4 linked regions of the Homo sapiens genome follow. The protein of the gene in region 1 purifies or fractionates together with the protein of each later gene. This does not show direct contact. Each region holds a gene or a part of one and is shown on either strand. Other genes may lie near its edges.

Region 1 (7,669 bases):
TCCTGCCTCACAACCTCAACGATATTCATATTCTGGCATTTGGGGCTGGATAATTCTTTGGTGGTGGTGGTTAGGGGAGGGTGTGGCAGGTCAGGTCTCCCTAACCGCTGAACAGGCAGGCCTCCATAACAACTGTCTCAGCACTGATTGAGTGGTTAAGTTAAATATTAAAAGCTGACAGAGCCAGTGCCCTCATACAAAGGCTGGAATGTAACAAAAGCCCACCAAGAATTTTGCCCAGGCCTTTTCTGGGCCTTGAGCATAACAAGATAATGAAGGAATTCTTAACAGGACCCGTTTAGGATTAAACAAGTTTTATTGGGGGGTCTGAAGAAACTCCTCTAAGCCTCCACAAACAAGTTTATTGGGGGTCTGAAGGAACTCCCCAAACCTCCATGATTTAGCAGGAGACAAGATAAGGGTAATCACCCCAGCACCTGGACCCATTTAGTTTAAATAAATTTACTGAGGCTACAGAGGAAGATCTTCAGGACTGACATCTTAGTTACAGATTGGAAGAAGTTAATCGCTTACGTCCAGATGAATGCACTCTTACATGTAGACAAATAGCTTAGAAGGTATATGAGCTCTGGAAAACTTTGTAATTTTGAGTTGGTCTGGCAATATTTTCCAGATCTTCTCCCTGTGCCCAGTTACAGAAATAAACTCCCTTCTCTCCCAGTTCACCTGCATCTTGTCATTGGGCTAAGAGAATAAGCAGCCTGACCCTTGGTTTGGTCCAGGAACAAGGGTGCATGGTCAGATGTTGAGCAGCGTCTCTAGGTTGTACACACAAGATGTCAGTAGCTCCCCTAGTCCAGTTTTGACAACCAAAAAAGGACTCCAGATATTGTCAGGTGTCTATCAGGGTGCAAAAAAGCACCAAATTGAGAAACACTGAACTAGAGCCTTCCTCCTCTGTATTCACATAGATACTTGAACAAAATGAACTTTCTCTAGTTCTTCAAGTTCACTACGAAAACCACTATGTTGCCCAATTTCTTTTTTTTTTTGAGACAGAGTCTGGATCCATCACTCAGGCTGGAGTGCACTGGTGTGATCTTGGCTCACTGCAACCTCCACCTCCTGGGTTCAAGCAATTCTCCTGTCTCAGCCTCCCAAGTAGCTGGGACTACAGGTGCCTGCCACCACGTCCAGCTAATTTTTGTATTTTTAGTAGAGACGGGGTTTCACCTTGTTAATCAGGCGGTCTCGAACTCCTGACCTCAGGTGATCCACCCGCCTCAGCCTCCCAAAGTGTTGGGATTACAGGCGTGAGCCACCGTGTCCGGCCGTTGCCCAATTTCAAAACAATTTAGTGCATTTGAAGAAGTTTATCGCAAAGCAAAAGTACACCCTGAGAGGCAGACGGAGGGAGAGATAGCCCCTAGTGTCTCAAGGGTCTCAAGACCCCCAGTAAAACTTGTTTAATCCTGAACGGGTCCTGTTAAGAATTCCTTTGTTATCACATTTATGAAGACGGTCTTGAGAAATCCTGAGGTTCTAATTTCTTTGTTTTCCAAACTTTTCCTGCATGCCTACTACATGCTACACCAATACAGGAGTTAAGAAGGAATTACTTAGGCCCAGAGCAAGGGCATGGGAGTCCTTGGTAAGGCTTTTCTTTTTAATGAAAAGCAGCCCCAAATCAGTTTCTAACAAAGAGCAGCCTGCAACCTGGGAGCTTGCATGAGTGAATGACGGCAGGAACTAAGGAATGGACATTTTCAAGATGGCCGCTCCATCTTCCCTTCTCTGTCACGTGCTGTAAGGAGCAGACAAGGTGGCACTGATCAACTGGAAAGTCCATTTGCATAAGAAGATTAGGGTGGGGTTACCAGCCTTCCTTGTGTGCTATTTAAACATTATACCCGATCAAACCAATCTATGAGCCTTATGTGAATCAGACACCACCTCCTCAAATGGGACTATAAAATTTGCAGCATTCACCACCAGATGGTCTTTTTTTCCGTTCCAAGACCCCTTCCTCTTTAGAGGAAGCAGTTTCTCTTTCTCTTCTCTTCTACCCATTAAACCTCCACTCCTAAAATCCTCGTGTGTTTCTGTGTCCTAAATTGTCCTGGCATGTGCCAGCGGAACCCCATGTTTATACCCCAAGTAACCTAGCTGCTTCAGCTCCTCCAAGAACATCAAAAGGAAGAAGATACAGTCCCTGGCTCATATGAAAATATAAACTTAGACACATTAAAATTTTAAAGAATTTATTTGAGCTGACATTCATGAATCCAGAAGTGCCAAACCACCTAGTGGGCACACAAGGAAAACTTTTATAAGGTATTCCTGGAATCAAAACAAAGAAAATAGTTTCATTTGGTTAAAGGGGAACGGTAGCCTTAAAGTTTGTAATTAGAGGTCAACTTGCAGTTTCTGATTGGTAAAGTCTCTACTTAGAGGTTAGTAGGCAGTTTCGATTGGTTAAGCCTAAGTTTCATTTTTCTAGGATATGACCATTCACTTTGAGTTAGGTTTGAATTTGCTTACTTGGAAACAAAGGCCTTGGAGCCATCTCAGCCTAATGGCTTCCCAGTTAGTTATTTTGACAATTGGGAGAGCTCAAGTTCATGGGGTAATGTTTGGGAAAGGGACAGAAATAGGTAACTTACTGAAACACAGTATGATAAGGTTCCTATAAAGATGGCAAAGGATATAAATTATGGGGATAATTATGGCCTAGGGTCTGGGGACCCAAGGGCAAGAGCTTTCAGGGATGGGAAAGAAGTTAGAAAAGGCTTCTCAGAGGAAGCCCCTTTCTAACTGCACCTTGAAGGGAAAGCAAGAGCCAGCAAGCAGAGAAGCGAGGAAAAGCAGTTTAGGTACTGATAATATCAATTACAAAGCAAGGAGGTAGAAGAGGGGCTGGCAGATGTTTAGGTAATAGCAGTCAGTCTGCTACAGCTAGGGTAAAGGGAACAAAGTCAGGTCCCCTCTCGGGAAGTCTATCTGGGGCCTGCTCTGCAAGCTGTAAGGGCCATGGAGTAAGGCCCTGGAGGGTGAACATCATCCTTCAGTCTGTCACATTAAAAAAAAAAAATCTGCACATAAATAAGGCAAGATTTTATCCAAAACAATTATTCCAATAAAGGGAGAAGAATCTTTGCAGCAGTGGAAGGGGAACTGCTGCAACAGGGAGGTGGAGACTGTTGTAATAGGGAGTGGAGGTCTCCCATGTACCATAAAACAAAACCAAAAAGTGAGCTTCTATTCTAGTGGCACAGTCAAACCATAAACAAAAATACCATTAGCAAATGATATTTAGCACAAAGTGTTTTTGTTACAGGAAAGGGGTTCTGATCCAGACCCCAAGAGAGGATTCTTGTATCTCTTGCAAGAAAGAATTCAGGGCTATTCCATAGAGTAACGTGGAAGCAAGTTTATTAAGAAAGTAAAAGAATAAAAGAATGATTACTTCATAGAGCAGCCCCGAGGGCTGCTGGTTGCCCATTTTTATGGTTATTTCTTGATGACATGCTAAAGAAAGGGTGAATTATTCATGCCTCCCCTTTTTAGACCATATAGTGTAACTTCCTGACGTTGCCATGGCATTTGTGAACCGTCATGGTGCTGGTAGGAGTGTAGCAGTGAGGATTACCAGAGGTCACTCTCATTGTCATCTTGGTTTTGGTGGGATTTGGCTGGCTTCTTTTTTTTTTTTTTCCTTTTGAGTCAGAGTCTCACTCTGTTGCCCAGGCTGGAGTGCAGTGGTGCAATCTCGGCTCACTGCAACTTCCACCTCGCGGATTCAAGCGATTCTCCTGCCTCAACCTCCCAAGTAGCTGGGGTTACAGGTGCCTGCCACCACGCCCAGCTAATTTTTGTATTTTTAGTAGACAGGGTTTCGCCATGTTGGCAGGCTGGTCTCAAACTCCTGACCTCAGGTAATCCGCCCGCCTCAGCCTCCCAAAGTGCTGGGATTACAGGCGTGAGTCACCGAGCCCAGCCTTGGCTGGTTTCTTTACTGCAACCTGTTTTATCAGCAAGGTCTTTATGACCTGTATCTTGTGCTGACCGCCTATATCATCCTGTAACTTAGAATGCCTTAGCCCTCTGGGAATGCAGCCCAGCAGGTCTCAGCCTCATTTTACCCAGCTCCTATTCAAGACGGAGTTGCTCTGGCTCAAATGCCTCTGTCATTTTGAAAGTGTAATGGGTAAGAAAGTGCGTGACGGATAAAGTGTGAGAAAAAATAAACAGGGTTAAACAAGAGGAACGGAGTCCTCAGGGTTGGAGAGGAGTGTGGTTTCATCAGCACGGGCTGGAAAGGCCTTGCTGGGAAGAAAATTGGCCCACAAACTACCCTGGCACCGCCCCCAGCTGCGGATTGGCTCAAGCCCTCAAGATCCAATTGGGCACAAAGGTTGGAGGAGGGAGTTGCAGTTGCAGTTCCTGATTGACTCTGGCAGCCGTGCATCAGCTCCCAGGGGCACACGCCTGTGGGCACAATGCTTCTGCTTCATTGATTGGCTGTAGAAAAAGCTCATGCAGCCTCTGATTGGCTATAAAATAAGCCCATGCAGCCTCTGATTGGCTGCAACATAAGCCCATGCAGCCTCTCATTGGTTGTAAAATAAGCACATGCAGCCTCTGATTGGCTGTGTAAAGTAAGCCCATGCAGCCGCTGATTGGCTGCGGGTGGATGCACTCACCTAAGGATGCGAGCTAGCAGGTCTTGCAGCGGCTATCACGCCCCTCACGCCGCTATCTCTGTGCAGCCGACTGAGGATCCCTAGTCGCATAAGGCTGTGCCTGGCCTGTTGGCGTCCCTGGCAGTTGTTGGGTTCTGGCGGTTGTTGGGTCCCTGGCAGTTGTTGGCGGTTGTTGGGTTCCTTCATTGAAACTGCACTAACTGGGCTTCCAGTCAGCGTCAGTCAGCGGATCCTTGGGCCGTGGGGCAGCCGCAGGTCGGTTAGGCCACCAGGGCGGCTCTCGTGCCAGTGAGGCCCCTGAGAGCCCTTTGGTCAGACAGAGGCTAAATCTGAACAGTCAGGCGGTGAGATTAAGCATAGTCAGGGAGTTCGCCAGGAGCCAGCGTTCCTCAGCCTCCACCACGTCAGTCACCTGGTCAGCCAGAGGGCAGCTGGGGCGACATCCATCTACCAAGAAGGTAAGCAAGCGGCCCGTGGGTTCACAATCAGGTCAGTGCCCTTATGAGTCAACGGTTAGTCCCTTTGAAAATCAGTTCATGAGAAAATCCACTCCCTTCAGAACCTGCCCTGTTCATTGGTTAGTTAGGCTCCCGCTAAGTCGGTCTCTTGGTAAGTTACACCCCTGCAAGGCACCCAGTCATTACTCACACAGTTATCCCATGTGTGTCTATCAGTTTCATTGTTAGTTATCCTGGCTTTCCCTAGAAAATCGTTTTCCTCACCATAAATAGGTCAGTCATTAGTAAGTCAGCCCTTCCCTTAGAAAGCCGAACACCTTTGCATCACTCACACCCTGCTAAGGAAATACACAGATGGAAGTGTGCTGAGAACAGAGAATATCCTGAGCCCTTTGGAACAAGAGACAGAAGGAAAATTGAGAGACATGATGGTGAAGGAAAATTGAGAGACATGGTGGTCAAGGAAAATAGGCTGGGCGCAGTGGCTCACGTCTGTAATCCCAGCACTTTGGGAGGCTGAGGCCGGGGATCACTTGAGGTCAGGAGTTCAAGACCAGCCTGGCCAACATGGTGAAACCCCGTCTCTTCCAAAAATACAAAAATTAGATGGGCATCGTGGCCCGTGCCTGTAGTCCCAGCTACTCGGGAGGCTGAGGCAGGAGAATCACTTGAACCCCGTAGGCAGAGGTTGCAGTGAGCCAAGATCGTGCCACTGCACTCCAGCCTGGGCAACACAGCGAGACTCTGTCTCAAAAAAAAAAAAAGAAAAGAAAAGAAAAAGAAAATATAATGGGTGCATGACGAGTCATCACATGTATGCTCTAAAACTGATGGAGAGAAGAAAGAAGAAATCAGAATTTTGTACTTAAATGGATCATTACATCTCCAGCAGTAAAACCCACTCATGTTACACATGAGGAAATAAGAAGAGGGAAAATACTTGACCACAGTTATTCAGTGCTTTACTGGCAAATCCTGGCCCAGGACCTAGACAAGGCTCATTCCGACCATCTAACATGGGCTTTTAAACAGAAGAAAGGGGAAGGAAAAAAAAATTGACAATGCAAAAAGAAAGTGGATATGTGGCGTGAATGAGAGAGGCATTTAACGACCTGGAAACTTGGGCGATATCTTTTTTATGTGAGAAGGAAAAAGGGCAATCAGTCTGGAGGCTAAGGGTTGGGAGCACAGACCACTCAGAGAGGTCTGTTAAAACATGCCGAAATATGGAATAGGAAAGGACAGGGCTGGTTCCAGAACTCTGGGAAGGGATTAGGGGTGGTCAAGAGTGGTCCCAGGCTGAGTGTGTTGGTTCACGGCTGCAATCCCAGCACTTTGGGAGGCTGAGGTGAGAAGACTGCTTGAGCCCAGGAGTTCGAGACCAGCCTGGGTAACATAGTGAGACTCTGTCTCTACAAAAAAAATTTTTTCATTAGCTGGACCTGGTGGCTTGTGCTTATAGTCCCAGCTACTCTGGAGGCTGAGGTGGGAGGATCACTTGAGCCTGGAAAGTCGAGGCTGCAGTGAGCCATGTTCATGCCACTGCACTCCAGACCCTGTGTTAAAAAAAAACAAAAAAAAAGTGGTTCCAAGTTAAATGCTGATAGGAGCTAAGCAGGGAACCTAATACATAGTAACTAACATTTTTTGATTGCTTACCAAATGTGAGGTTCTGTTCTACTGACTCATTTAATCTTAACAACAACTCTAAGATGGGTGCTATTATTATCCATGTTTTTAAAATGAGCAAGTAGGCCTAGAGAGAGGTGAAGCTACTTGCACACTATAAAACAGCTAACCTTCATATCTAGGCAGTTTGACTTGAATTTAAAATTTAAAAAAAAGAGAGAGAGAGAAGCTGGTTGTTTGAATTTTTTGTGAAGTGCTCTGATTATTAAATGTTATCCCATTTTAAAAGTTAGTTTTAAAAAGTAAGCATTTGTAGGCCAAACAAAATTCATTTATGATTGTTTTTAGTCTCTGAAGCAGGCTGACAGTGAGGGAAGTGACTTACCCAGAATCACCCAGGAAGTAGCGACAAAGATTAGGTCTTCTGACTTCTGGTCCACTTCCAGGAAAAATCTAAGTATACTGTGTGTCACATCAGGGCTAGCTGATTTATTCTTATATTTTATTCATGAGGAAGTGAATTTGGAGAGGAGAATGAACTTCACCATGCTTATACAGCAGTTTTTAAGGCAAAATAGAATCATGAAAAAGACACCACAGTTGTAGTCAAAGGTTGAGTCTGAAATCTATGAACGTAACGGCTGCATGTCTTGGGGCCAGTCATAGTACTTTTGTGGATCTCTGCCTTCCTTTTGGAAGTGTTGATAATGAGATGTACCTCACAGAGTTGTTGAGACTAAGATAAAAGATAAAATTTCTACGTCTCTAGAGTTGTAAATGGCAACCATAGTTTCTCATTAGATGTTAACCAAAAAAGTAGTTAACAGTCATGGCATGATTCAGTCATTCCCAATTGATTCACAGCAGGGCACAGTGGCTCATGCCTGTAATCCTAGCACTTTGGGAGGCTGAGGCGGG
Region 2 (7,024 bases), on another chromosome or scaffold:
TCCTGGCTCAGCCTCCCTAGTAGCTGGGATAACAGGCGCCTGCCATGAAGCCCAGCTAATTTTTTGTATTTTTGTAGAGACAGGGTTTCACCATGTTGGCCAGGCTGGTCTCAAACTCCCGATCTCAAGTGATCCGCCCACCTCAGCCTCCCAAAGTGCTGGGATTACAGGCATGAGCCACTGCGCCCAGCCTATAAATCTTTTTCTTTAATAGTCTGTCCTTTATTCAGCTGATGTGACCATAGGCAGACATTCTAATTGACTCTATTTCATCTCAATATGTGGCAAAAGGTCAATTTATCCAAAAAACATTTATTTGAATAATTATCTTATGAAGATTTAAGATACATAACAGAAATATGAAAAACTTACTCTAGCTCGAAGATATCCCAGGTTAGACAATAATAATGGAAATACATGATTTTGTAGAAACAGCTCCATTTGGTCCTTGAATAAACTCTTCTATTAGGAAACAAATTTCAACTTATCAATTTCTTTTTCATACGTAAGAATCACTTCCTAATCAAGTGTGTTTACTATGACTTGCATTTAATATACTTCTAATTTTGTAAAATTATTTGACCTATATATTGCATGTTTTAAAACAAGACAAATATTACCTTATATCAGTTTGATATTGATTGATTTTGTAGACATAAGATACTTTGTATCCCTTTCACATATCAATAGTTTCATACTGAAAACTTTAAACAGTCAAATTTTCTTTTTAATTAAAGAAATAGATGACAGAAAGGAGGATAGTTGTGAACTCAATTATCCAGAGGTAGTCACCAGCTTTAAATTAGCCATAACTTTCATATTCTCTCATTTGCCTGTACTTTACAATGTTATTAAGTAAATTAAATTTTGATTATCTTAACCTTCAGTAAAATCTCAGCTAGGGAACCAATCACATGCAGGGCTCCATCTTTCTTCCTAGGGTCAAAGTTCGGGTCTGTCAGGATTTGATAACAGAATGCCATCATTTTTGGCAACACCTAAAGAAACAGAAGAATCCATTTAGTCTACATGAACTTTCATTGTCTTACTATAGTATTAACTATGATGCACAAATTTTTAAAAATAAAGCCATTTTATTATGTTTTATCAAGCAACTATAAGCTCAATAAGAAAAGTATAATTTATTAAGAAAACGAAATAACCATGATACCCCCTTTCCCCTCACCAGGAGAGGAAAAAAAAAATCCTTAAGGTGACAAATTATAACGAATAACAACATAATTTCTCAAATACTAGGGATATACTAGAGTATCAACTCAACACAGGCCACCTTTCAGTTTTGGATTTAAAAAGAAAAATGAAATACCTCTTTTCTTTTCTTTGCAGCAGTATATAAGAGAGTCTGGGCTGCTGTGGTGGGAGAAGCATAATCTTCAAAAATATCTAAGATTTTAAAAGGTTAAAACCATGTTAGTGAAAATATAATTACTTATTCTAGATTTTAAACCTGACTGACCGCTATTCCAAACCAAAAAAATAAAACCATCCACATATGACACTGCTTGACAGTACTAAAAAGGTAAGGATATACAGTGGCACCACAACATTGCTGTCTCCTGCACAAAACAATGTTCCTCAAACTCTACAGGTTGTCCTTTCAAACTATTATATTGAAGAAAACAATGCATTTACACATCTGTTTCACTGAGAACAGAAAAAGTGCTTTATTTCTATCAAAAAACAACAAAAATTCACTCAGCTCTTACTATGTGCCAGGTACCATTCTAGACCCCGGGGATACAAAGATCAAACAAAAAGGTTCTCACGGAGCTTATGTCGTGAAACAAAGAAACACATTATACATATATACACACATAATAAGTCAGGCTAAGAACAAATGTAAAATAGGGTAAAGAGACAGAGTGACAGAGTATGGGGTGCTAGTTTAAATAGGGTGTTAGCAAAAGCCTCTCCAACTCTGTTAAGGTAACATTTAAGCAGAAATTGAATGAAATGAGGGAGAAAGCAATCCATGGATAAAGTACTCCAAGCAGGTGAAACAGCAAGTATAAAAGCCTTGAAGGACTGCTAGGACCATGCCTGGCTCTGTCGATACGTAAGTTCAGCAGGTTTTGTTGAATATATACCTATCTAAAACTTAACATATCACTTAATACCATGAACATTTTCACAAGTTTCAGAATAGGCAGTTTTACATAAGAAACTGAAGTCTTGAGAGGTATCTGATAAGTCCTTGTTTAAATACAAAAGATAAAACCAAATCTAAGTCTACCTCAAAATATAAAATACAAACATAATAAGAACATTTTTGGAGTACTGTACTTACTCTGTGCCAAGCAGTATGCTACAGTTTTAGAAGCATCTTGTATTCTATGCTAAGCAGTTAGTTCATGTGTATTATCCCATTTAATCCTCCCAGCACTATTATCATCACCCGTTTGACAGCTGAAAGCACTGAATTTTAGAGAGGTTAAGTAACCTGTCCACAGTCACACAGCAGGTAAGTGACCAAACCAGCATTCACACCCACGCTATCTTAACATCAAAGCCTGAGCTCTTGTTAGTTCTTACCAAATCAAAAAACATTATTGGGGGAAGTGAGGAGATGTTGGTTAAAGAGTAGATAAAAAGAATAAACTAAAACATTATTATTAATCAGTCAATACATTTAGATAGGAATGCTTTGTTTCACGTAAATAATTGCAAGTGCCAAACATATAAAAAGAAAATGCAGTAATTGTTCTTCCCTATGGTTACCCAAAAGTAAAATACACATATCAAATAAAAGCCACTGCATTCCAGTCTACAGAAGGAAACGATTAAAGAAAACTCACTTCAGCTAGTCAGTCTTGAGTTACCCATATCCGCTTTTAAACAATAAAATGTAAATTCCCACTGTTAATCAACAGACATAGAGTTCTTATTTTCTAAAAACTAGGGTATGTATACCTATCTTATCAGATATGAAGAATATATAAATAATGGTAACTTTCTGAAAGCTAAACAAATACTCTGTACATCACAAAAACACATAGGTATTATGAAAGAAGTAAACACTAAAAGAATGCCTTGCAAGGCAAGAGGATCACTTAAGCCAGGAGTTCGAAACCAGCCTGGGAAATACAGGGAGACCCTGTCTCTGCAAAAAATAATTAGCCAGGTGTGGTGGCACATGCCTGTGGCCCCAACTACTTGGAGGCTGAGGTGGGAGAGTCACTGGAACAAAAAAAAGAGAGAGAGAGAGAGAGAGAAGAATGGTTGGCTAATCACTCAAAGCAAACTAGAAAAACAAAGGCATAAGAAAGGGGAAATAATAAGTTACACATATGAATAATGATTTTCAAAAGAAAAATAACAAATCAAGCAGATGATAAATGTTTCTCATTGATTTGCTTTTCTGATACTTTGTCTCCAAGAGAAAACAGGATCCTCACTTACTGAATCAAATAATATAAACACAAAGCTCTGTAAAAACACAGCCCAAAAAACTAGCATCTGTACCAGTAGGTTTAGCTTACGTAGCTAGACACACCTGGCTCAACTAAGGGGAAAGCACTGCTTCATTACAGCACTTTCAGCACGCAGCGCTAGATTTAGCAATCATTTCTTTCAACATGTATTGAAGGCATACTGGAGGCCAAGCACTAGTGGAGGAATGCAGAGGTGTAGAAGAGACAGAAAATGCAAAATTAAGCAAATAAGGTAAAATTCCTGTCCTGAGAAAGCTTCTAAGTTGTGGGAGATAGGTATGCAAATTAATATTTTGCTATGTTAAGTGCTTGAGTGTTCCATGAAGCAATTAATACAAACTGGGAATAAAAGGGAATAAATCAGGCCACCTACACAATTCAACAGTTTCCAGGAAGATCCAAGTTAAAAGGACACCCAAAGAATTGGACCACACACAGTAGGGCCCCCATACGAAATTTATTTCCCTTGTGGAACACTTAGTCTCTCAGACAAGCAAGCAAACCAAATTGGGGTACCCCTAAAATATGCAGAAATCCAAAGTATTTCCCACATGAGAACAACCCAATCTATAAATGAGTCTCCCAAAAGGCACAAAAACGGATGGTCCCTGCAGATCAGCATCGCAACAGCATAAGTAACAGATGGCTCAACTTGAGCACCCGTAAGAGAGATGAATGAGGTGGCTTTTCATCTCCCACATCCGACAATCTCCAGTTCTCTAGTTCAACAAAATAACATCAAACTCTCAAAGTTTCAGATTATGTCATGCAAAACAGAACCTGGGAGATTTAATAAAGTAATAACATTTGCTTAAAAATATAAATTTAGTTATATTACTTTACATATCCAGGAACTGATGAGAAATAAAACCATCTCAATTACCAAATTTCATCCTTATATACTCATATGGATCTTCTTGCCACAGCTCTTCATCCTCATCTTTATAACACATCACAGAAAAAATCACATCTTCAGAGATATTCTAAAATGAGAAAAAAAAAAAAACGTAACAAATGGGTATAGGCTATTCAAGTTTGAGGAATACTAATAATGTACTTGTTGACAGCCTTTATGATGTTAGTTTTCCAAACTCTGTGTGTGTGTAAAATGTCAAGTCGAGGTTATATTTACTATTATAGTTCTTATTTTGAAATTTTTTTTAACATTTCCATTTTAGTCCTAAATGTCCATGTATTAACAATATTAAAGGGCCAGGCATGGTGACTCATGTCTGTAATCCTACCTCTTTGGAAGCCCAAGGGCAGAAGGATCGCTTGAGGACAGGAGTTCAAGACCAGCCTGGGCACTGTAGCGAGACCCCATCTCCAAAAAAATACATAAAAACGTAGCCAAGCATGGTGGCGTCCATCTTGGAGGGTCTCTTGAGCCTAGGAGCTCAGGGCTGCAGTGAGCCATGATCATGCCACTGCAGTCCAGCCTGTGCAACAGAGTGAGACTCCAGCTCCAAAAAAAAAAAATTGGAATTTTCTTTACTTCTATTCCCAAAAAAACTAATTTCCTACTCCACAAATGTTTCAGTTAGAGAAAAGTCCTATCTACTAGCCTCTCTGTGCACTGCTACTAATGTCCTATTAAGCCCTTTTAGGCTCTAACAACAATTTATATAAAAACAGGATCATCTCTTACCACTTAATTCCAAATTAAATAATTCTAAGTGAAAAAATTCAGCCTAAGGATCAGCGTTTTCTTATTCCTACTTTACAGCTATGTAAAAATAAAGCCAAAGGTATGAAGTAGAGAAGAAATGTTATCACAACTCACCCTTACTTTACAGGAACACAGCAAATGAAATCAGTATCTTTATTAATTAATTGCAAAGAAATTATCACTATTTGATCAAAGTGATTAGGCAAATAGTTATTAAGATATCTACATAAATCAAAGAAAAGATATCTGTTGGTAAGACGGGTAATAACACTAAAATTCTATCCTGGACAGCAAACAGCAAAGTGAAAGATTTTTCTTTTCAGATATCATTTATAAAATTTAAGAATTCACAGTTTGGGAGAGAGTAGGTATTCAGTTCCTAAGACTGTCAAATTATCCAATTATTTGTATACAAGGAAGTATTTATTTATTAGTGGCCTATAATTTTCCATTCCCATTTGTTCTTTAGCTAAATAACAATACTGAATTCTACCTTTAGGCAAACGATATAGAAACAATGATGCTATTGAACTTAACAATCCAAGAAAATAAATAAAAACCTTGCTCATACCTACAAAATAAAACGGTCACATATCAGTCTTCAATTCCTGCAAAATAACACTACCTTAGTAGAGCCCTGGTAAGTTTTCAAAATACTTTCTCACAAAATACCTCATTTAATCCTAGCAACTTTTAGATAAGAATAGAAAAACACTATGTGCCTTAATAGAGGAGAAAATGAGGCTTAATGAGATTAAGCAAGATCAAGTGAATCCAGGTCTCCCGACTCATAAAACTTGAAGGCTTCACTTTTCTCAAATGCTTAAATTTCTAAGCCCTTTATATCTGACATAGGACTTCACTCATTAGAAATTATTAATGGTAAAATGTATATATATAAAATGTAAAATATAGGATTAGTAATACTAACTTTGTCTAGAAAACCTAATTTAACCAGAGAATAATTTTGGAGAGCTGCTCTCTGACACTAACCTGTATGTGTGGCTTCATCTGCTTCCAGGTTATAGAATGAACCACCCCTTGGTTGAGATAGTTGAATGCTTGCTGAAGAACACGGGGAGCTACATATTCTTTCTGTCTATATTGATCTAAAATTTTTAGTAGCACCTATAAGAAAACAGAAAATACAGACTAACATAAACAATTATAAGGTTAAAAGGGGGAGGTGCCATTTTTGGCATGACCTAAAATTCAGAATCCATAGAAAAATAAACAGATTTGGGAGAAAAATCAATGTTTTGTAAGAAAGCTCAGATAAACAGCTTTAATTATTAGATAGGTCCATGTTATATTGAACTAAACGGTGTCTCATTGTAACTTCCAGGCAAAGTCTAAATTTCTATTCCACTGCTAGCTCTTCAAAGTAAGTTAAAACTCCTGTTTAAAAAATTACAATAACAGGAGCCGGGCACGGTGGCTCAAGCCTGTAATCCCAGCACTTTGGGAGGCCGAGGCGGGCGGATCACGAGGTCAGGAGAACGAGAGCATCCTGGCTAACACGGTGAAACCCCGTCTCTACTGAAAACACAAAAAAATTAGCCGGGCGTGGTGGCGGGTGCCTGTAGTCCCAGCTACTGGGGAGGCTGAGGCAGGAGAATGGCATGAACCCCGGAGGCGGAGCTTGCAGTGAGCCGAGATCGCGCCACTGCACTCCAGCCCTGGGTGATAGAGCGAGACTCTGCCTCAAAAAAAAAAAAAAAAAAAAAAAAAAATTACAATAACAGATCTGACTAAAGAAACATTAAAAACTTCCATACAACAAGAGACAGCACAAAGATGTTTCTTTATTTCATAAAGACTTCTTCAAATTAGAAGAGAAAAGTTGTTCAAAAAATAGTATTGGCATAACTGATTAGCCCCCTGAAAAAATTTAAATTAACTC
Region 3 (7,937 bases), on another chromosome or scaffold:
ATCTACATTTACACAGTTAGGCTTAAACTTCAAAATCTTCCCTATTGCTGAGATACAGTTCTCTGTAGCAATGACATTTTTTTTGGTTTTGGAATTTGCACACTTAATAACTTTTACCAGAAGTGGAACAGCTTCTGAACATAAAGAACGATAATCATCTCCACCAAACTGTGCCATGACACCCAGGCCATAAGCAGCAGCTTGCCTGACTTCAGGGTTGTTATCTCGCATATTTAGTAGCATTGGCCACCGAAAATATTCTACATATTTAAATGAAGTTGGACTGCAGTGCTCTATGATGTCATCAAATATGCACAATCCCCACTGTCTGTCTGGCCATGGCCTACTTGAACAAATTAGATTTACAATTAATGGAAGTAGTTGTTCAAACCATGGTAAAATCTTTTCCTTATAAGTACTAAATAATGAGTGCAAAATATCTGATACTTTGGTCAGAATATAAACATCACATTCATCCTCATCTTGCAGAGACATCTCAACCTGTTGATCATAGTTTTCTTCCTGTCTTTTCACCTGTCTCAATTCTTGGTTTTTAAAGTGCCCTTCAAGTTTTGCTTTCAGTATTCCTCCCAGTTCTTCCAAGTGTTCATCATTAAGGCAACCATCTCCCATAACTTCAATGGACTTTGCAAAAGAATTCATTATTTCTGAGAGCACATCTGTATCTGGTTCAGTACCAATAGCCTTGATTAAGGGGTCACATATGAATTGCCACATCTGTGCAAGATACTCTGGGCCACGAATTCTTGCACATTCCAGGAGAAAAGGCATGGACTCTGCTGCTGCCACTCGAACATTGTCATGGAAATAAAATTTCAGTAAAGGAACCATCAGCTTCACAACTTGTTCTGTATATTCCACAAACCCTTCCCTTAACTCCTTAGCATAGTAAACCAACATTTGGCAAGCAGTTGCTTTTGCTTCAAGTCCTGAAGTTTTAATTCCAAAACTCTGCTGGTCTCCAAGATTTACAAATTGCCAGCCATCATCGTCACTCATATTTTCCACATCCTGTGTGTCTAAGAGAGCAACATCAGGTTTAGCTGAAGCAGTCTTAATAAGAGGCTCGATAACCAGTGGAAGGTACTGTTGAAAATCTTTTCCAAGAATTTTACACATTCTAGCCCATGCTGAAACCATGTAAGAGGTCTGAGGGTCATCATCTTCCATATTATTTAAGTCTGATTGTGTCTTCAACAACAGCTGCATCACATTTGATGCATCTTGCATAAATTTTTCCTTCCCAACAGCAAGACCAATATGGCTAATGCACTCGATAGTTTTTCCTCTCAGAAGCTTGAGTTCCTTCTGAACAGCAAGCTCAACAATGTGCTTTAGTGAGGGCATGAATATATCATAATATGGGACAAATTTTTCTTCTATTGTATCTGCAACTGATGCAATGGTTGTCACAAGTTGTTCCAAAGCCAACTTAGTTCCATTCCGAATCAACTCTTGAAGTTTAATCACCAAGACGGAATGTAGATTTTTCACCATACTATCCACATATAGAACTAGCAATGATTTAGGGCAGTCTTCAATAAAAATAATAAGAGCAGAAGCTGCATGTGATTGCACACGCTGATTACCTTGATTTTCCATGGTACGTAACAGAGCTGCAATCACTGTTTCATGAAATTTCTTTTGGAAATTAGGTGCAAAATCTGTAGCCATCTGTCCAAGTGTAGTACAGGCTGCAGCCCTCACCCTTGGATGAGGATCCTGAAGAAAAAGCAAAACGGAGTTAACTGTTTCATCTAGAATTGATTCCATTTGTTGATGGCATCCTTCTCCAATGGCAGATAAGGCCATTAATCCAGCATGTCGATACTTCCAGTCAGGGCTCTGAAGCATCTGCATGATATGCTCCTTGGTCATTGGTAAAACAACTTTTCCACCAAGCCCACAAGCCAGTCTGTCTAGTGCACTCTCCGCAGCAACTGCATTGCTGTCAAAATCATCTTCTTCCATTTCATCAGCATTTACCCAGTCCTCATCATCTTGTAGATCAACCATCATTGCTAATATATGAGGAACTGCCTGTGCAATAATATTTGTATGTTTTTTCAACATCGGAGTGGCAGTTTCAGACAAGGTCACTATAACTTCGAGGGCCAGCTGGCGCTGCAGATTACTAAGCCTAGAGTCTCCACATAACTTCAAACTCAACTGTAGAGTATCTTCTAAATAAGGACCCAAGTACTTAGGTACGGTATCTGCAATCTCAACAAGGGATTCTAGCACTGAATCATCATCCTGGTAGCATGAGTCATTCACAGCCTGTAAGATTCCAGGAAGCAAGTCTGCAAAGTCTTTGAAAAGAGCAATATTATTCTCATTAGCAAGTACAAATGCAGCTGCAGCTCTAGCGGATAATGTCCTGATTGCTGGATGTTCTTGATCTTGAATACACTGGTCCAACAACCGTTTGATGATATCCAAATCATGCCGCTCTTGGGTCCCAAAAATCCCAGGAAAGTGCCAGAAAACGTGAAGTGCAACTTCCCATAGAACCACATTTTTGGAGTAGATTGAATCAATAAGAAACTTCAGACCTTCCGGCCAGTGGTTAGTGCCATCCTCATCTATCAAATTCCTGGCCAGCACTGCAAAAATATCACAAAGTTTTTTCCTCATGCTAGCATGTGTTTCTAACTTAACAGCCAGAATCAGTTCAATCTTGACATCTCTCTGAACATCAGCAGGCAGATTTGGATAAACCTCCTCAAACCCAGAGGACAAAAGCCGTCGTAGCAGTGCGGCAGCCATTTGTCTCACCTCATAACCTGCTCTTCTATTTCTGACGGCATCTAAGAGGAAGGTAGTCTTACACAGACCTGGGATATTTTCATAGATTTCCTCTGCTTGCCTCCGCACCATACAGCTTGGATTGATCAGGTTCTTCAGAAGCTGGTAAAACTCTTGCTTTTCTGACACGGTCGCCGGCACCCCTGCAGACGCGGTTGCCGCCATTGCGCTCTGTCAAAGCTACCGCGACCGGGAAGGAGGGAGGGGGTCTGCGGCTCGAAGCAGTGACGTAGGCGAGGCGCCGGCGGGGATGGGCGGGGTGCTTCTCCCTCCTCTGCCCAGAAACTCTAGCTGCGCTCTGGCAGGCTGCGAGCTAGGTTTTGGAGAGAGGTGAGAGCCGTGTGGAGGCCAATGGCATCCTCCATTTGTTTTTCAATAAGATAAACGTGCACTTGCAGGCGAGAGAAGAAAAGCATTGATTAGAATGGGATCATGACTTTTTTTTTTTTTGGATACAAGGTCTGGCTGTGTCACCTAGGCTGGAGTATAGCGGCGCGATCCCTGCTCACTGCAGCCTCAACCTCCTGGGCTCAAGCGATCCTCCCCGCCTCAGTTCCCCCAGTAGCTGGGACCACAGGCGCGCGCCACCACGCCCGGCTAATTGTGTTTTTTATAGAGACAGGGTTTCGCCATGTTGCCCAGGCTGGTCTCGAACTCCTGGGCTCAGGTGATCTGCCCGCCTCGGCCTCCCGAAGTACTGGGAATACAGGTGTGAGCCACTGCTTCTGGTCAGATTATGAGTGATTTTTTTCTTTTATTTCTAAACTATATTGTTACTTTGATAATTTTAAAACAATAAGTCTATCTTGAAAACATGCCAAGTGAAAGAAACCAGTCACAACCACATATTGTATGATTCCATTTGTATGAAAGGTACCAAACAGGCAAATTGTATAACAGAAATTAGTGGTTGCCAGAGGTTGGGGGGAGGGGAGGATAGAGAATGACTGCTATCAAATAGGGTGTTTCTTTCTGAGTGATGAAATGTTCTAAAATTAATTGTGATGGTTGCACAATTCTGTGATTATACTAAAAACCATTGAGTTGTTAAATTTAAATTGGTGAATTGTATGGCATATAAATAATACTACAATAAAGCTTTATAAAATAATAAGTGTGATAATAAAATAATAATTACTTCCCCACTACCACATCTAATGCAGTAGAGTGGTAGCTCAAAATCTGGTGTGTGTCAGAATCACCTGGCCTGTTGGTTATAATAAAGAATGGGAAAGACAACTGAGTAAAGTATGGTAGAAAGTGATCTGAACTAATAATCAGAAGACAGACTTGCATCCTGGCCTTGTCACTAAATTAATTTTGTATCCTAGGACAAGTTACTCAAGATTTTCCTTGCATCTTGTCTAAACTGAAATATGAAGGGATGCGGTTAACTAGAATCCTAACTAACCATTAGTGGGAAGCTGCTGAGGTTATTCCAAGAAACAAATGTTGATGAAACTAAATTTGTTTCTTTTTTTTTTTTTTTTTTTTGTGAGATGGAGTCTCGCTCTGTCGCCAGGCTGGAGTGCAGTGGTGCGATCTCAACTCACTGCAACCTCTGCCTCCTGGGTTCAAGCAATTCTCCTGCTTCAGCCTCCTGAGTAGCTGGGACTATGGGCGCATGCCACCACGCCCAGCTAATTTTTGTATTTTAGTAGAGACGGGGTTTCACTATGTTTGGTCAGGATGGTCTCGATCTGTTGACCTCGTGAGAGATCACCCGCCTCGGCCTCCCACAGTACTAGGATTACAGGTGTAAGCAACCGCGCCTGGCCAGTTTGTTTCTTTAATTCAGGCAGGTGTGTCAATCAAAAACAAGTTTCATTCCTATAACAATGATTAGGTCTTACTTTTGTATTAGCACTTGCCACACTCATTTTGACCCTTATACAGAATTGAGAGATTGCTAGGATAGATATAATACTAAATTTAGGTGAGAAGTGGAAACTAAGGGAAGTTACAGGATTTGCCTAGGATGACACACCTGAGTCTCAATTCTACCTCTTCTGAAAGTGACACTGATGCTCTTTTCACCATATTGCTTCCCCATTAACTACTCTTGGTTTTGCAGCATGATCAGAGGCTTCACTTACTGCAAATTCTGTCTTAAACTTTTCCAAGCAGCCTTAATTTTGTTTTTGTAAAGTGCTGCCGCATATACCCACAAAAATTAGAAAGTCGTAGCTTTTACATTAACCAGATGATAGACAAAGTAGGTAGTCTCATAAATTACATTGTAGCCGAGCATGGTGGCTCACACCTGTAATCCCAGCACTTTGGGAGGCTGAGGCAGGCAGATCACGAGATCAAGAGATCAAAACCATTCTGGCCAACACGGTGAAACCCCGTCTCTACTAAAAGTACCAAAATTAGCTGGGCGTGGTGGCACATGCTTGTAGTCCCAGCTACTCGGGAGGCTGAGGCAGGAGAATCGCTTGAACCTGGGAGGCAGAGGTTGCAGTGAGCCGAGATTGCATCACTGCACTCCAGCCTGGCGACACAGCAAGACTCTGTCTCATAAAAAAGACACTGTAATATGAAACAGAGCTATTTTCTAAAATAGAATTTCTCATTCTGTAGACTGAAAACCAACTGCATTAGAATTGCTTGGGATACCTATTTTAAAATATAGATGTTAGGGCCCAAGTTCCTATTAACCCAGAATTCTGGGGGGACTGAGGACTAAGAATGTACAATTTCAACCAGCACATTGGGTTTTTATATAAATACCAACATTTGAGAATCGCTGATAAGATCAATTCTGGTTCTAAGATTATGACTACAGTTGTGCATTCATTGGTTTTCTTTCTTTCTTTGTTTTTTTTTTTTTTTTAGATGGAGTCTCGCTCTGTCACCTAGGCTGGAGGGCAATGGCACGATCTCAGCTCACTGCAACCTCTGCCTCCTGGGTTCAAGCAATTCTCCTGCCTCAGCCTCCTGAGTAGCTGGGATTACAGGCATGCACCACCACACCCAGCTAATTTTTATATTTTTAGTAGACACAGGGTTTCATCATGTTGGCCAGGCCGGTCTCAAACTTCTGACCTCAAGTGATCCACCTGCCTCAGCCTCCTAAAGTACTAGGATTACAGGCATGAGCCACCACACCTGGCCCATTCATTGGTTTTCTTACTGTTCCTTCAAAAAGTCTAACTGGAGGGACTTTGCATTTGCCGTTTCAGGAAATGTTAATAATAATTAATTAATTACTTAATACTATATCCACTAGCATATGAAAGACATTGAAAAAAACCACAGTGATACACCACCACAGACCTACCACAATGCTTTAAAAGTCTGACAAAGCCAAGGGTTGCTGAGGATGTGGAACAACAGGAAACTCAGTTATATTTTTGTTGAGAGTATAGGTAAATTGGTACAACCTCTTTGAAAAAAATGAGCTGGGCGCAGTGGCTCATGCCTGTAATTCCAGCACTTTGGGAGGCTATTGGGAGGCTAAGTTGGGCAGATCACCTGAGGTCAGGAGTTCGAGACCAGCCTGGCCAACATGGTGAAACCTCGTCTCTACTAAAAATACAAAAAATTTAGCTGGACTTGGTGGTGTGCGCATGTAGTCCCAGCTACTCAGGGAGGCTGAGGCAGGAAAATTGCTTGAACCCAGGAGGCGGAGGTTGCAGTAAGCCAAGATCACACCACTGCACTCCAGCCTGGGTGACAGAGGGAGACTCCATCTCAAAAAAAAAAAAAAAAGAAAAAAGAAAAAGAAAAAAATGTTTGAAAAATTCTGGGTTAAGATTATGCAATTATTTGGCCGGGTGCAGTGGCTCATGCCTGTAATCCCAGCACTTTGGGAGGCCGAGTTGGGCGGATCACAAGGTCAGGAGATTGAGACCATCCTGGCCAACATGGTGAAACCCCATCTCTACTAAAAATACAAAAATTAGCTGGGCGTGGTGGCGCGTGCCTATAGTCCCAGCTACTTGGGAGGCTGAGGCAGGAGAATTGCTTGAACCCGGGAGGCGCAGGTTGCAGTGAGCCAAGATTGTACCACTGCACTCCAGCCTGGTGACAGAGCGAGACTGCGTCTCAAAACAAAAAGAAAGAAAAAGAGTATGCAATTATTCAATTAGTCTCTCAGCAAGCATTCTTTGAGGGTACACTCAAGCATGGTGCTGAGTTGCTGGTATTAAAGACTAAATTCATGAAGATATGTGAATCTCATAGTAAACAGAGATAGTAAATGTCACATAGCGTAGTGATCACTGTAGTAATGATAAGCCTGCCATGGAGCCATATGGGGTTATGGAGGCAGCTAATTTACTCTGGGTATGGGGTTGATCAAGTAAGGCTTCCCAGAGGAGGTATCAGAGTTGACTTTTGAAGAATGAGTCCTCATTAACCATTTGAAAAGAGAGAAAGTTGTTCTAAGTAAAGGGTACAGCTTTTTCAGACACAGAGAGGCCTTCAGGTGTACTGTGATGAGAGTTCTGCCAGTGTTTCAGTAATGCTGGGGCGGTGAGCATGGGATTTGAGGGGGTCTGGGGATGATACAGGAAGCTGGAAGGAGGAAGACAGAAAGTTAAATAAAGGCCAGATCATGAAGGGTATCATATCTGTCAGGCCTCTAGCCCAAGCTAAGCCATCATATCCCCTGTGACCTGTACGTATACATCCAGATAGTCTGAAGTAACTGAAGAATCACAAAAGAAGTGAAAATGGCCTGTTCCTGCCTTAACTGATGACATTCCAACACAAAAGAAGTGAAAATGGCCTGTTCCTGCCTTAACTGATGACATTACCTTGTGAAATTCCTTCTCCTGGCTCATCCTGGCTCAAAAGCTCCCCCACTGAGCACCTTGTGACCCCCACCCCTGTCAGCCAGAGAACAAACCCCCTTTGACTGTAATTTTCCTGTACCTACCCAAATCCTATAAAACGGCCCCACCCCATCTCCCTTCACTAACTCTTTTCGGACTCAGCCCGCCTGTGCCCAGGTGAAATAAACAGCCTTGTTGCTCACACAAAGCCTGTTTGGTGGCCTCTTCACACAGACGCAAGTGAAATTTGGTGCCATAACTCGGATCGGGGAACCTCCCTTGGGAGATCAATCCCCTGTCCTCCTGCTCTTTGCTCCATGAGAAAGA
Region 4 (7,024 bases), on another chromosome or scaffold:
TGAAAGGATTATAAACAGAATTTTATTATAATGGAACAGATGGAACAAAAAAGATGAGACTTTTAGCAAAGAGGGAATGATCACTAATAAACTGCTGATTTTATTAGAAAGTTTCAAAAGAAGAAAAAAATGAAATTGTAATTTAATGAATAAACATTACATGTACAATATACCATTTGGAGGTTACTTTTGTTTGGTGAGTCTACAAATAAACTTCATTGCTATTGATATTCATCTGTTAATAAAATTCTCTTTTGATTATATTTAAATTACATATCTATAAGTAGACCTCAAAAGTAAAACAAACAAAAACCCCAAAAGCTTTCTACTCTATGGTAAGGGATTGATTACCCTTTGTTGTTTAGTAACTCCTGGTTTTTACCATTTGGGAAAACTGGGGGAAAAAAAGGAGACAGAAAGGCAAAGGCAGAAATCACGAGAGATATAATAATAAGAGATGAAGACAGAAACAGAGATAAGGCTGTTAATATTTAATTTGCTCTTTATGAGGTACAATTTACAATATGACACAGTTATTTCCTGTTTTGTCAAATACACAAATGCATGGAAATTCTTTAAAAATTAAAAGAAATAAGTTTAACTGAAAAAGTATTAATATATAAGCATGACTCATTAAAAGCTGATAGTCCAATCTATTTTACAATACCTTCCAGATAACAGTGTGCCAGGTTGAATGCTGTAATAAAGTTCCATGCGCACCAATTGTAGAAAACAGAGTTTGCCCTGCACTCTTCCTGACAGCAGGACGGGGATCCACACATAGTTCACCCAATTTTGCATAAAGACATAACCACAAGCAATCAAATGGCGGTGCAGGGTGGAATGGCCGATTTAAAACAACTCCTTTCTCTTCTGCCTGCTTTTGCTGTGCTGCCTCTTCCTTATTTAGTTCTTTTTCAATAGTTTCCCCTCTTTGGAAAAAATAATCTGAAATATTCCACTAAAAAGCAAAGTAGAAAAATATTAGTTCATCCAAGGTTTTGTTTTAAACACATAAATATGCAACATGTGGCTGTTTTACCTTTCAGAGTAAAACTTTAAAAACATTACTTCAAAAATCTCTTTCCTAGTAGAATAGATTCAATGAAAACATCTCTTCTTCTGTCAGTGTCTCTACATTATTTCAGGAGAAAGTGGGGAAACAATCTTGAGCTAACTTTTTTTTTTTTACTTTTTTATTATAAAAAATGTCAAGAACATACAAAAAACCAAGAATAGTATAAGGAACTTGAACATATTGATGTATCTACCACCTAAATATAACAACTGTTAACTATAAAAAAAAACTATAATATCATTATCACCCTAACAATGTTAACAATTCCTTAATATTGTTTAATAAGTTTGTAATTTCATACACGAGCAATTACTGTTTCCAAACATATCTTATATTAATGATAATTATGCCAATGGTTAAAATGTAGAGAATCCAGTACTGTGAACATAAATGTAAAATAAAGGAGGTGCTATCCAGCAGTAATTTAAGCAATGTTGCACTAGCCACCCACTTGCAATCATATATGCAACATGCTTACATTTTTTCCCATGTAAAAATGGGAAAAATAATAGTAATAGTAAAATACAGTTGTCCCTCGGTATCCGTGGGGGATTGGTTTCAGGACCTCCCACTGCATACCCAAATCCACAAATCCTCAAGTCTGTTATATAAAATGGTGTAGTATTTGAATATAATCTACACACATCCTCCTGTATACTTTGAATAATACTAGGTAACTTTTAATACCTAACATAAGGTAAATGCTATGTAACTAGTTATACTGTATTTAGGTAATATTGACAAGAAAGCCTGTACATGTTCAGTACAGATACAACTATCTTGTTTTAAAAAAAAATTTTCTATTTATAGTTGGTTGAATCTACAGATGCAGAAGCCACAAATATTAAGAGCTGAACGTAGGAAGAGATGAATGTAGTAACTTATCTAGCTTGTGAGGAAAATTTAAAGTTCAAATTTATAAAACTTCTGAGTTTTAATATACATTTAAAAGATTCTAAATAATTGCCTTAAAATATATGTTGAAAACAATTCTGTGCATGTTTATTTCATGTAATGTTAACAATTCTCTAAGATTTCATTACAGAGATGCCTTGTTTTATTGCACTTCTCTTTGTTGTGCTTCACAGATAATTGTAATTTTTATAAATTGCAATTTATAAAGGTTTGTGGCAACCCTGCATTGAACAAGTCTGTTGGTACCGTTTTTTTCCAGCAGCATGTGATCACTTTGTGTCTCTGTGCCACATTTTAGTAATACTTGTAATATTTCAAACTTTTTAATTATTACTATGTCTGTTATGGTGATCTATGATCCGTGATCTTTGATGTGACTATTGCAACTATTTTGGGGTGCATGAGCCGCACCTATGTAAGATGGCAAACTTAATGTGAGTTTTCTGACTGTTTCATCGTCAGGTTGTTTCCTCATCTTTTTACTTCTTCTCAGGCCTCCCTATTTCTTGAGATACAACAACAGTGAAATTAGGCCAATTAATAACCCTACAATGACCTGTAAGTGTTCAAGTAAAAGGAAGAGTCGCATTTGTCTCACTTTCAATCAAAAGCTAGAAATAATTAAGCTTAGTGAGGAAGGCATGTCGAAAATCAAGACAGGCCAAAACCTGGGCCTCTTGTGCCAGTGAGCCAAGTTGTGAATGCACAGGATAAGTTCTTGAAGGAAACGAAAAGTGCTACTCCAAAGAACAAACAAACTATAAGAAAGTACATCATGGCGGGCGCCTATAATTCCAGCTACATGGGAGGCTGAGGCAGGAGAATCACTTGAACCCAGGAGGCAGAGGTTGCAGTGAGCCAAGATCATGCCACTGCACTTCAGCCTGGGTAACAAGCGCAAGACTCCGTCTCAGAAAAAAAAAAAAAAAAAAAAAAAAAGAAAGAAAGAAGAAAGTACAGCAGGCTTATTGATGGTATCAACAAACTTTCAGCTGTCTGGATAGAAGGTCAAACCAGCTACAAGATTCCCTTAAGCCAACGCCTAATCCAGAGAAAGACCCTAATTCTCCTCAATTCTATAAAAGCTGAGCAAGGTGAGGAAGCTGCAGAAGAAAAGTCTGAAGCTAGCAGGGGCTAGTTCATGAGGTTTAAGAAAAGACGTTATCACCATAACCTACAAGTACAAGGTGAAGCAGCAAGTGCTGATGTAGAACCTGTAGCAAGTTATCCAGATCTAGCTAAGATCACCGATGAAGGTGGCTACACTGACCAACAGATTTTCAATGTAGACAAAACAGCCTTTTTATTATTATCATTTTTTTTTACAGAGACAAGGTCTGGGTCTGTTGCCAAGGCTGGAGTGCAGTGCTGTGATCATAGCTCACTGCAGCCTCCAATTCCTGGGCTCAAGCAATCCTCCCATCCCAGCCTCCCATGTAGCTGAGACTACAGGTGTGCACCACCATACACAGCTAATTTTTAGTAGAGATGGGAGTCTCATTTTATTGCCCAGCCTGGTCTCAAACTCCTGGCCTCAGCAATCCTCCCACCTCAGCCTCCCAAAGTGCTGGGATTACAGGCATCAGCTACCATGCCCAGCCTGAAACAGCCTTGTACTTGAAGATGTCATGTAGGACTTTCATGGCTAAAGATAAAAAGTCAATGCTTGGCTTCAAGGCTTCAAAGTACAAGCTGATTTTCTTGTCAGGGGCTAATGTAATTGGTTCACATAAAAGTCAACTGAAGATTTCCCTTGTATATACTATTGTTTACTAAACCCTTTCATGACAAACCCTGTAAAACCCAAACTTCAGCTCAATGTATGAAAATTATTTCAAACATTTTGTTATTAATATTTAAGTGATGTTATTTAATCCTTCACCCAGACGTAAGTTTGAAATTTAAAAGCCATATAAACAATTTGCAAAGAGCTAAAAGTATATTTGCTTAGCATTCACTCCCAACTGAATAACAATGATTTCTAAATTATATTATATTCTAAGGACAATGATACTTACCAATAAACCTATTGAAGTTAAACTAATATTGAGTTCTTGGTTATGGAGGCCAAAGCTACCTGCAACATCTACAACTATTTGCAGGCAAGTACAAGGCATTGTTGGTAGAAAATCTGTCACAACCAACTGAAGACACTGGAATGCAGTTCGTATCAAGGATTCTCTGAAAACAAAAGAAATGTATACAGATGCACTTATTTTATTTATTTATTTATTTTTGAGACAGGGTCTCACTCTGCCACTCAGGTTGGAGTGCAGTGGTGCGATCATGCCTCACTCTCAACCTCCCTGGATCATGTGATCCTCCCACCTCAGCTTCCCCAGTAGCTGGGACTACAGGTGCACACCCCCATGCCCTTTTTTTTTTTTTTTTTGTGGAGACAGGGTCCCACTATGTTGCCTTGGCTGGTCTCAATTTCCTGGGCTCAAGTGATCCTCCTGCCTTAGCCTCCCAAAGTGCTACGATTACAGGCATGAGCTACCACACCCAGCCTTACTTATGCATTTAAAAGAAATGTGTAAAAATACATATCTTACAATAATTTGAAGTAAAATTTTATTTCAGAATTTAAACAAGAAACTCCTAATATTGATCATAAAGTATTTTAACATTTACATAAATGTAAAAAAGACATGCTTACTTAAACAAATTAACAAAAACAAAGAAAGAAGCTTACAGGCAATAAGAAATAAAAACAAATTTAAAAATAAAGTATTAACATCATATTACTTCTATTTGTATTTCATACCAACTAACCAAAGAAAACTTAGACAATAAATGAGAATGGCAAGTTTGCTACAGTTATTTTTCTCCTCACTGTATCCCTGATATCTAGTACAGTGTCCAGTACATGTAAATACACACAATTTACTGAAAAAGAGCTCCTCATTCTTTTATATCCGTACTGTATCTTATTTAAATCTCCAAAGAAATATAAAAACCCACATCCAGTCAGTGAGAAAAGAGTAAATTTTGAATTTCAAATAAAGATAATAAGAAGTATTTAGTTTTGGAGAAAAATCCTGGTGGTAAAAAATAGTAATGAAAATGATAAGTATAATTGCTAATACTCTGAGTGCTTAGTATGTCACATACTTTCTAACTGTTTTACACCCATTAATTCATTATACCCTTACTACAATGCCCTATTTAGTACACCACATTATAGGTTGGGAGAAGACACTTAAGCTTGATCTAAGCTGATTCTTCAATTTAAGCATCTCAATATTTTGTAGTAAAGAATTTTATTACTATAAATATTTAAGAAAAATTAACTTTCCATAATATTCTCAAGCATCTTGGTCGTCTACAACTTCCGAACTAGTCATCAAAACAAAAGTGTGATACTGCAGAATTACAGAAAAATCTATCCAATGTCTGTCTGCTTAATCTCTCCACTGCAATCTCCTACCCCAAAAGTTAAACAAGTCCATATGTCCCCTCCAAATTTGCTCTTCCTTGTCTTTTCCCTATTTAGTTAATGATACTACCATCCCCCACTAAACTGCCTAAGTCAGAAATCTAGAAGTCACTCCTGATTGCTATTTTCCCCTATGCCTCGCTACAGTCAATCCGTTAAGTAGCTCAAATCCATCTCTTATTTCTAGTGAGCACTTGTAGCCATTCTCATTTCCTACCTTCCCTTCCATGCTGCTGTCACAGTGATATCTATAAAATTCATATGTGATTAAGTCATTCCTCTGCTTAAAATCCCAAAATGTCTCCCACATGAATTTTGGATAAATTCAAATCATTTATATAACCATATAAGATCTCCTTCATAATTTTGCCTCTGTCCTCCTCCTGCTGAAGGTTTCTTATTTTGTGGCATAACAAACTACAGTCATGTGTTGCTTACTGATGAGGATATGATCTGAGAAATGTGTCATTCGGCGATTCTGTTGCTGTATGAACATCACAGAGTTTACTGACACAAACCTAGATGATATAACCTACTACACACCGGGGCTATATGGTATATTATTGCTCCTGGGCTACAAACCTGTACAGCTTGCTACTGTCCTGAATACTGTAAGCAATTGTAACATAATATAAGTATTTATGTACCGAAACATATCTAAACATAGAAAACGTACAGTAAAAACAGAGTATTAAAATCTTATGGGACCTCCATCATATATGTGGTCTGTTGTTGACTGAAACGTTAGGCAGCGTATAACTATACTTTCTCACTAGGATTCTATGTCTAGGGCAGGAGCTATTTACCTGTGTAATCAGAATAACTACCATGTATAGTATTTGAAATACACTCTGCACAGAATAAATGTTTAATAAATTAAAAAGTAATGAAAAAGTTACTTTAAAGCAATTTCTGACTGCCTAATATATATAGGGAGGTCAAGCCCTAAATGCTAATTCACATCTTATCAAATAATTTAACAAAACACAACAGCCCAATCTTTGGATGTGTTATAAAATTTGTTAATTGTTTCAAGTATCTTATAAGTAAGAATCATGTATTCTTGCATGAATGTTAAATAAAGAGCAATTTTTCCATCTTTCCAAACCAAAGGTGATCCCTAAAAATTGCCTGTAGCCACTTAGGGGTAGAGTTAAGAAAAACTATTACAGATCTTAGCCTTAAGCAGGAAGCGCATACATGAAAAAAATAACCACTATTTCAAGATTTTAGGATGGAGTCCTTCTCTACCTCTATCACTTTTTTGATGTTAATTTTATTTTATTTATATTTTATTTTTCATACATATTTTTTCTCAAATAATTTTAAATACTTACCCTTGATCATTTCTGATTGCTCCCATGACTCCAAGCACTAATGGCCATCCAGGCCCAAGACTGTCTCCCTGACTCTGCAGAATCTGCAACACGCATTCTAACTGCTTGAGTCGAATATCTGGATGATTAATATTGGACATCTCCTTTAACGGGTTCAATAAAAGCAACTGCAGCCTCTGAAAAGGGGGCAAGAAACTAATTAGGAAGAGAAGTCCAAAAAGACAAGAAGGCTTTACTGTTGCTTTTCAAGTTTAA

The links.
Region 2: the proteins of SIGLECL1 (region 1) and IPO8 purify together in Homo sapiens (co-immunoprecipitation; 3 studies listed by BioGRID and IntAct, with this or other methods). This does not show direct contact.
Region 3: the proteins of SIGLECL1 (region 1) and RANBP6 purify together in Homo sapiens (co-immunoprecipitation; 3 studies listed by BioGRID and IntAct, with this or other methods). This does not show direct contact.
Region 4: the proteins of SIGLECL1 (region 1) and MON2 purify together in Homo sapiens (co-immunoprecipitation; 3 studies listed by BioGRID and IntAct, with this or other methods). This does not show direct contact.

Annotation. Positions count from the first base shown.
Region 1 is NC_000019.10:51,246,424-51,254,092, forward strand, and holds the start of SIGLECL1 (SIGLEC family-like protein 1), read left to right. Parts: upstream 1-4,656; 5' UTR 4,657-5,122; intron 5,123-7,669.
Region 2 is NC_000012.12:30,664,848-30,671,871, forward strand, and holds part of IPO8 (importin-8), read right to left. Parts: intron 6,250-7,024; coding exon 6,115-6,249; intron 4,436-6,114; coding exon 4,336-4,435; intron 1,405-4,335; coding exon 1,328-1,404; intron 999-1,327; coding exon 882-998; intron 463-881; coding exon 373-462; intron 1-372. UniProt on the Homo sapiens protein: Involved in nuclear protein import, either by acting as autonomous nuclear transport receptor or as an adapter-like protein in association with the importin-beta subunit KPNB1.
Region 3 is NC_000009.12:6,012,614-6,020,550, forward strand, and holds the start of RANBP6 (ran-binding protein 6), read right to left. Parts: upstream 3,012-7,937; 5' UTR 2,995-3,011; coding exon 1-2,994. UniProt on the Homo sapiens protein: May function in nuclear protein import as nuclear transport receptor.
Region 4 is NC_000012.12:62,546,818-62,553,841, reverse strand, and holds part of MON2 (protein MON2 homolog), read right to left. Parts: intron 6,946-7,024; coding exon 6,770-6,945; intron 4,175-6,769; coding exon 4,012-4,174; intron 962-4,011; coding exon 668-961; intron 1-667. UniProt on the Homo sapiens protein: Plays a role in regulating membrane trafficking of cargo proteins. Together with ATP9A and DOP1B, regulates SNX3 retromer-mediated endosomal sorting of WLS away from lysosomal degradation.